Linked DNA regions of Homo sapiens: region 1 is linked to region 2. The links come from fine-mapping of genetic effects on gene expression. A gene starts in region 2. The other region holds a variant in brackets. All regions are shown on one strand. Distances are between the middles of the regions.

The links. PIP is the estimated chance that this variant, and not a neighbour inherited with it, causes the effect.
Region 1: its variant is the best candidate, but not a certain one, in a credible set for the expression of ZNF318 in Th1 cells (Schmiedel 2018, PIP 0.75).

What each region holds. Positions count from the first base shown.
Region 1 is chr6:43,343,515-43,347,907 of GRCh38, forward strand. The region is part of intron 6 of ZNF318 (zinc finger protein 318); the gene reads right to left. Among named protein-coding and RNA genes, the nearest start is that of ZNF318, 24 kb to the right of the region's middle. The variant CAAA/C (reference allele first, on the strand shown) is at 2,667.
Region 2 is chr6:43,367,930-43,372,322 of GRCh38, forward strand. ZNF318 (zinc finger protein 318) reads right to left here and starts at 1,718. Exons shown (of 10, transcript NM_014345.3): 1 at 1,038-1,718. The coding sequence starts at 1,436. LOC124901227 (atherin-like) reads left to right here and starts at 1,435. Exons shown (of 2, transcript XM_047419609.1): 1 at 1,435-1,458; 2 at 1,494-3,412. The coding sequence starts at 1,435. The coding sequence ends at 2,192. RefSeq lists silencers at 1,122-1,191, 1,202-1,391, 1,482-1,681, 1,872-1,971.

The sequences.
Region 1 (4,393 bases), 24 kb before region 2:
AAATATCACTTTTAGAATTTAACAACTTTAGAGGCCAGGTGCAGTGGCTCACACCTGTAATCCCATCACTTTGGGAGGTCGAGGTGGGCAGATCACTTGAGGCCAGGAGTTCGAGACAGGCCTGGCCAACATGGTGAAACCCCATCTCTACTAAAAATACAAAAATTACCCGGGCATGGTGGTGTGCACCTGTATTCCCAGCTACTCGGGAGGTTGAGGCACGAGAATCACTTGAACCCAGGAGGCGGAGGTTGCAGTAAGATAAGATTGTGCCACTGCACTCCAGCCTCAGCAACAAGTGAGACCCTGTCTCAAAAAAAAAAAAAAAAAAAAAAAAATTTTAACACCGTTAACATGTATCCTTTTTAAAAATATATCAACTTCTTAATATTAAAGTTATCAACAGCAAATACTTTAATATGAATTAATTTATTACCAAGCTGGAACAAGGCACTCAGGAAATGAGAATTTTGGTTAATGTTCAGGAGTAAGGCACAGGAAAAAAAGATAATTTTTGCAACTCAGAGGCTCACTATGAATGGGGTTCTATAGTACACAAGATGAAGAGCTGGGTACCTGGAATATTGGCTCACGCAGGGAAAAAGGTAGGATACAGAAAGGGAAACAATTGGGGCTTCAAAGATACTCTTTCCCTACCTGAGTCCTATTCAAGAATCACTAAAGAAATCACACCAGACAGGCAGGGGATGGGAGAGTTCATACACTCCTGGTGGGAGTATTAACTGGCACCATCTTCTAGAAGATAATCTAGGAATACATTACATACCTCAAAATACTGTATACCCTTTAACCCAGCAATTCACTCCTTGACATTTATCCTATGGAAATTATCATGTCAAACAACAGGTGATTTGATTGGTTAAATAAATTTTGCTTAACCATGCAACCAAAACAACAAAAAATAAGGTTGTTAAAAATGGTATTATAGAAGTGTATTTACTGACATGGAAAGATGTTCATGATATACTGAGAAAACTAATAAAATACACTTGAATAATCAACAAAGATATGTAAATCGGCATACAGCGTTGAATATCACTTTATCCAAAATACTTTCTCTAACCACTCTATACTCCTTATCCTGTTTTCTTTTTTTAGGCACTTCTCATTACCTAACATGGACTTATTTATTTATCATCTTCTGCTATTTAATGAGAATATGAACCTTGTCTATACTGTTCAGTGTGATACTTCCCATATCTAGACCAGTTCCTGACACTTTATTGGTGACCAATACATATTTGTTAAGTGAATTGATGGACAGAATTAATACTTTGGTGTATGTATTTGGAATAACATACACCAAGGTATTAATAATAAATTAATGTATTTGGAATATATAATAATACCTTGGTGTATGTATTTGGAATAACATACACCAAGGTATTAATAATATTATACACCAAGGTATTAATAACAGTGGTCTCGGCTGGGCCCAGTGGCTCATGCCTGTAATGCCAGCACTTTGGGAGGCTGAGGTGGGCAGATTACTTGAGCTTAGGAGTTCGGGACCAGCCTTGGAAACATGGCGAAACCTCAACTCTACAAAAATACAAAAATTAGCCAAGTGTGGTGGTGGTGAGCACCTGTAGTCCCAGCTACTGGGGAGCCTGAAGTGGGAGGAATGCTTGGACCTGAGAGTTGGAGGCTGCAGTGAGCCATGACTGTGTCACTGCACTCAACTTAGGTGACAGAGTGAGACCCTGTCTCAAAAAAAAAAAAAAAAAGTAATAATAACAGTTGTCTCTAGGTAGATGAAATTACAAGTTTGTATGTGCTTTTCTGAAATGAACAGAAAGGGAAAGAAAATCTCAAACCAACTATACATTTTAAAGAGAGGTAAAGAAAGAAGAAATACCAAGGACAGGTAGGAAAGAAAGGCTGTGGACATAATATTCCTTACTGCTGAGATGAAAACTGAATTGTAACATATCCGTTAGTTTCAGAGACCATGAAGACGCACCCAAATCAAGATGACAGATTATCATTGGGTTCGTACATGAATAGAAATCCAATGTATAAGTCAATTACAAAGGACCAGAGCTTTTAAATTCTTCTCCCATCAAAGGCCCTACCTAGACTGAAGACCCAGGTATAAAAGACTAGGCCTACCTGGTTGAGAAAGAAAACTCTCCTAGGAAGACATGGAAAAAAATAGAGCTTGGGTGATAACACAGAATATATTCTCTTTCCTACCTCTCAATATTAACTGAGGATGTACTATGTGCTAGACATATTGTATGCAATGGGAAACACAAAGATAAAAAAGATTCCTCTTTTATCCTCTCGGGCCAGGTGGGGTGGCTCACATCTGTAATACTAGCACTTTGGGAGGCTGAGGCGGGAGGATCATCACTTGAGCCTAGGAGTTCAACACCAGCCTGGGGACGGGCGCAGTGGCTCATGCCTGTAATCCCAGCACTTTGGGAGGCGGGGGCAGGTGGATTACCTGAGGTCAGGAGTTCGAGACCAGCCTGGCCAACATGGTGAAACCGTCTCTACTAAAAATACAAAAATTAGCTGGGTGTGGTGGCACACGCCTGTAACTCCAGCTACTCAGGAGGCTGAGGTAGGAGAATTGCCCAGAAGACAGAGGTTGCAGTGAGCGAAGATCACGCCACACGCCACAGAATAAGACTCTGTTT[CAAA/C]AAAAAAAAAAAAAAAAAAAAAAAAATGCTGGGCAGGGTGGTTCACGCCTGTAATCCTAGCCCTTTGGGAGGCCGGATCACGAGGTCAGGAGTTTGAGACCAGCCTGGCCAATATGGTGAAACCATGTCTCTACTAAAAATATAAAAATTAGCCGGGCGTGGTGGCACGTGCCTGTAATCTCAGCTACTCGGCAGGCTGAGGCAGAAGAATTGCTTGAACCTGGGAGGCGGAGGTTGCAATGAGCCGAGATTGCGCCACTGCACTCCAGTCTGGGTGACAGAGCAAGAACTCTGTCTCAAAAGACCAGCCTGGGCAATATAGCAAGACCCCATCTTTAACCAAAAAAAAAAAAAAAAAAAAAGCAGCTCTCATTTAGTGGAGACAGACGTAAGAAGAGTCTTTAAATAAGACAACGAAATAAATTTTACAAAGAAACAAATTACAGAGTGCTAAAGAAGGCTGACTAGATCTGGGTGGAATTCTGGAAATTCTTCATGGAAGAGGTGGTATCCAAATTGGGCTTTAATGGGTGAGTGGGGTTGGGAGAAAGATTATTCCAGGCTAATAGGATTATTTATGCAAAACCAGAGAGGTGTAATACCAGATATTGCACATCCGGAAAATTGCATTTTGAGGTGACGCAGCGTAAGATGTAATATAATGTTTCTTCAGCAGTATTCATTACTATGTGCTGGGCCCTGGGCTATATATTGGGAATCATATTGAACAATGACACATATAAAGTCCCTGTAACTTTTGAACCTTAAAATCAAATTAGGGGAACACATTTAATTATAAAATCAGATCTGTCATAAATGTTAAGAAGGAAAATTACAAGATATTATGGGAGTGTATATCAGGCAAATTTAACAGTCTAGGGAATCAGAGAAGGATGTCAGGGAAGTAATTTAAGATCCAATCTAAAGGATGAATTGGAGTTAGAAGAGTAGATAAGGAAAGAGTTCGATTTGCATGGTAAAGAAAGGGAACAGAAAATGTGAGGTCACGAGAGGAGATGATACATTTGAGGAATGAAAAGGTTAGTAATGAAACTACAGTCAGCAAGAAGGAAAGAGGCATGAAATGAGGTTGAGGAGGTAGGCAAGGGATTAAGTATCATGATCACTGGCTATATGTGCAAAAAGAGTTAATTAACACAGCAACATAAGCAAAAACTGATGTGGCTTGGACTTGAATGTCAATGGAGATGATAAGGTGCATGGAATCGAGATTTACTTTGGAGAGGGACCTGACAGAATTTGTAATTGATTGCATATGGAGCAGTTAGGGAAAGCAGAGCACTGAGAGTGACTTTTAAGTTGTTGGCATGAAAACTGTCGGACAGTATGCCATTCATTGAGAATGCATAACAATGGAGAAAGAAAAAGTTGGAAGGAGGTTGAGCACAACCATTAATTTAGTTTAGGACATGCTCAATTTCAAGTGCCTATGAGATAATGAAGTGGAAATGGTGAGTTACGTTGTTAGACACTCAGAAGACTCATTTGACTAGAACATAAAACTGGCAATTGTCACATGGCATTTTAGCATAGGACTGGATGAAATGGCCTAGGAAGAAAGAGCAAATTCTGGCAAGGACTGAGCCCCGAGAAACTCAAAAATTTAAAGATTATGCAAGAGAGACAGCAAAGGATACTAAGCAGGAGCATCCAATGTACTACGAGGAAAAGAAGTGTGACAGAAGCCAAGGGAAAAGAGTATT
Region 2 (4,393 bases):
CGGGAGGATTGATTGAACCCCGGAGGCGGAGGTTACAGTGAGCTGAGATCATGCCATTGCACTCCAGCCTGGGGAACAGAGTGAGACTCTTTCTCAAATAATAATAATAATAAAAAGATTGATGAACTAAAAATAAAACAAATTCCCAAAAACCAGACTCTACCTAGAGGATCTCTTGGGGTGGTGGTTATGGTTAAAGGTCAACATTATTTCTAAAACTAAACTTAAACTCATGCTCCGTTCCTCTAGCAGTGAAACATAGAGGTTCAAATCATGGATTTGGGGAACCAGGCGGATCTGAGTTGAAGCACAGCTCCACCACTTAGCCGTGTCACCTCAGTCGAGTTACTTGAACCTCTCTGGGTTGGTTCCTCGGCTGTACAACAAGGAATAGTATTAACTGCCTCACTTCAAAGACTTGTGAGGGTTAAAATAATGTGCAAAGTGAAAGGCTAGGCATAATTCCTGACATAGAACTCGATAAGAGGTAGTGGCTATGGCAGTGACTGTGGTCCTGCACACTTCATTCCGAAGCAGCAGCTCCAATTCATTTAAGCTAACAGTTTACACTCTAGACGTAAAGCCTGGTAGGGTTCAAGCGTCCCTAACTCGCCACAAAAACGGACATTTCGGCTTTTTCCCCTAAGATCCAGGAAGGCAGCTCAGGTGTAAGGGGATGAAAAGTACGGAACCCCGAGGACACATCAACTCTACAAAAAGTACCAAGACACACGGTTTGGACGAAATGCCCCTCGCCTTGGCAAACTTTCCACACCTCACCCGGCATGAGAGAAACAGCCTATTCCTAAGGAACGGAGCGCGCACTCCCGACGAGACGCCCGTGCGCTCCCGAGTCCGTTATTGTGTCAACGCTCCCGGGTCTGACAGAAGCCTCCAGGCTCGGCATCCCCGAGGGAGTTGGCCGGAGGCTTCGCGCTTAGGACCCTGGTCTGGAGGCCCCGGGCGTTTCTGGAAACGGGAATTCCGGGGGAGGGGACTGGGGGATGGAGGGAGTCCTGGACGAGGGGTGGGATTACCCGGCTGCCGCTGTCGCCTGGATGGTCTCCGCGGCCGTCCCGGGCATAGTCGGCGCGGGACTCCCCCCGGCTGCTGCCTCTGAAGCCGGCCGGGCCCGGCGGGAAGAGTCGTCGGCCCCGCGGTGGCGACGGGGAGCCGCGACGGGCCCGAGGCGGGGACGGGGAGACGCGACGACCCCGTGGCGGGGACGGCGAGGCCCGGCGGCCGCGGTGCCCTGAGGGCGAGCGGGGTCGGCGAGCCGGGGTCCGCGACGAGGAGCCGGAGGGCGGAGGCGGCGGTGAGCTGCGGCGAGCCGGGCCTGAGGAGGAGCCAGAGCTGCGGCCGCTGCGCGGGCCGCCCCCGCCGTCGTCTTTAGGCCGGTGGGAAGAGACGGAGGAGCGAGCGCTGCTGCGGTACATGGTTCTTGCAGCGGCGGCCACGGCGACAGCTCTGACCCGGGGGCGCCCTAGACGCAGGCTCGGAGCGCGCCGCCGCAGCTGCAGCCGCCGCCACCTCGGCCGCTGCGCGCCGCCTCAGCCGCGGGAGCAGCCCCCTCCCCTCGGCCCCGCGTCGCCCCGGGGGCCCGGCCGAGCGCGCCCCCGCGGCTGGCGGTTGGAGGGCGCGAGCACGCGTCCGACACACCCCCCCCCGCCTCCGGGGTTCCCCGCTCCTCCACTCAGGGAGCGGCCGCAGGAACCAAGAAAAGTGGGGAGGAGCACAGACGCCGGCGCGAGGCTGGGCGAGGGGAGGGGAAGCGAAGCGCGCGCCCTGAGCTCTGCACGCCCCGCCTCCGAATCCTCAAGATGGCGGCCGCAGAGCCGCCCACTTCCCCCTCCCGCGGCCGCCACGTGACCCCTGTGGCCTCCGCGCGGGGTGGGCGGAGCGGAAGGAAGGGCTTCTCTGGAGAGGGATCTGGTTTTCCGGGGATGCTCCAGGCCTCTGGACTTAGGGGTTTGGAGACCGTGCGGAGGTGTCTTCGCTCTTTCGTGCCGCCCCTCAAGCCTCTTAATTTAGGGATGGACACGAAATGGTTGAAAACCATTCGTGATAATATAAACGGGCCTGTAAACGTTAGCTGTGTGGGAGGTTACGGACCCCGGCAGGAGCGCCCACCGAAATCCTGTCCCCAGCTGAAGCAACACGACCCGCATCAGTTTACTTTCCAGTTTGCCTAATTTCTAGAGGTTGAAATTGAGGATAGGAAAGTACGAGGTGGAGGTGGTGGGCCAGAATCAAACCCAAAATAGACGTTGTCAGGCCTCTGAGCCCAAGCTAAGCCATCATATCCCCTATGACCTGCACGTATACATCCAGATGGCCTGAGGCAACTGAAGAGCCACAAAAGAAGTGAAAATAGCCTTAACTGATGACATTCCACCATTGTGATTTGTTCCTGCCCCACCCTAACTGACAGGATATATTCTCCCCCTTGCCCTTAAGTAGGTGCTTTGTAATATTCTCCCCCGCCCTTAAGAATGTACTTTGTACACCTATCCCAAACCTATAAGAACTAATGATAATTCCACCACCCTCTGCTGACTCCTTTTTCGGACTCAACCCGCCTGCACCCAGGTAAGATAAACAGCCTTGTTGCTCACACGAAGCCTGTTTGGTGGACTCTCTTCACACGTTTTCGAGCTGTTTTCTGACTAAAGTACTTGTGGTCATGGTGGAGGTCCTTCATTACCAGGGGCCCACATCATGACCAACTGGAGGCGTGGCAAGTTTTTGTAAGAGATCCAGGCATGCCCCCTCCCCTGGCCTAAGTCCAGAATTTTCCTAGATGCCAATCTCAGGGCCCTGCATCCTAAATACAAAAGTGGGCCAGGCGCAAAGGGTCACGCCTATAATCCCACCATTTTGGGAGGCCGGGGCAGGAGGATTGCTTGAGCCTGAGAGTTCGAGACCAGCCTGGGCAACGTAGAAGGACCTCCATTTCTAAAAAAAAAAAAAAAAAATTTGCCGAGTGTGGTGGCACGTTCCTGTACCCCAGCTACTCGGGAGGTTGAGGCTGCGGTGAGCTGTGATCATGCCACTGCACTCCAGCCTGGGTGACAGAGTGAGACCCTCTCTCAAAAAATACATCCATATATATATATATCCATTTCCATACGTTCTTATAATGGCATATACTCAGTAAAAATGTATAAAATTTTTACTAGTTGACTACTTTTACCCAGCTTCACATTTTATATAATTTATATAAAATAAGAAACCAATAACATTTTAATGAAAAAAATAATAAAAATATGCCAGAGGTGTATGCCCTGTCTTTATTAGAGTATATATGGATTTTGGTTACCCATACTTTTGGTGGGACTTAATAAATGTGAAAAAAATGTAAATCAGTGTGTATAGATACTTGGAGTCAATAAATTTTAAATCATGTTTGTTATATTCTGTATCAACTTTTACTCCTCAACCCATTTCTAATACTGAATATTTTTATCAAAGGAGCTGGGGTGTTTCAAGACAGGGGGAGACACGGTGTATAATCAGAAAACTCTTCTGCTTCCCCTTCACACTTGCTCTATGCATAGTTCTGTATCCTGCATGAAATCTCTTGCAGATCCTTTCACTTTTCAAGTATTTTTCAGTCATGACAGTAGTCATATTGCAGTAGAAAATATATAGTACAGAACAAAACTTTAAACTTTATTCAGGCTAAAGGTTCTCCCCTACCCCTGCTTTTACCTGCTTCAGACTTGAAGCTTGCTATATTAAAAGTGGTATGGTAGGTTTCTCCACATCCCTGCCTTTGCTCCTCAAAGTTTGCTCCTCCTCTCCCACTGGCTAGCTGCTATTTCTGACCCCCTCCTCCCAGGAGGAGAAGGGATTGAAGGGAAAGAACACAGACTTTCCTGGTTAGTGCAGGATGCTGTTACCTTCCAAAATCGGTTCCCTATGGACAAGGAGGAATCACAAATGTTGGCTTTTCTCTCTTATGCACCTTTGTGGGCTTTTTTAGAACTCTCTTGCTGGCAGTGGTCCTCCTCTGGTTCACTGTCTATGACTCCCCTCCCCCAAGTCTTTGGCCTTCTGGAGGAGGTTTACCCCATGTAAAACTCACTCCCGTGGCAGGAGTCCCTTTCCTCTCTGGTTATCTCTCATGGGACGGATCCCTTTTATTTTGTTTTGTTTTTTTTTTTTTTTTTTTTTTTTTTTTTGAGACAGAGTCTCGCTCAGTCGCCCAGGCTGGAGTGCAGTGGCTCGATCTCCGCTCACTGCAAGCTTCGCTTCCTGGGCTCACGCCATTCTCCTGCCTCAGCCTCCCGAGTAGCTGGGACTATAGGCACCCGCCACCATGCCCAGCTAATTTTTTTGTATTTTTTTTAGTGGAGACGAGGTTTCACCGTGTAAGCCAGGATGGTCGCGA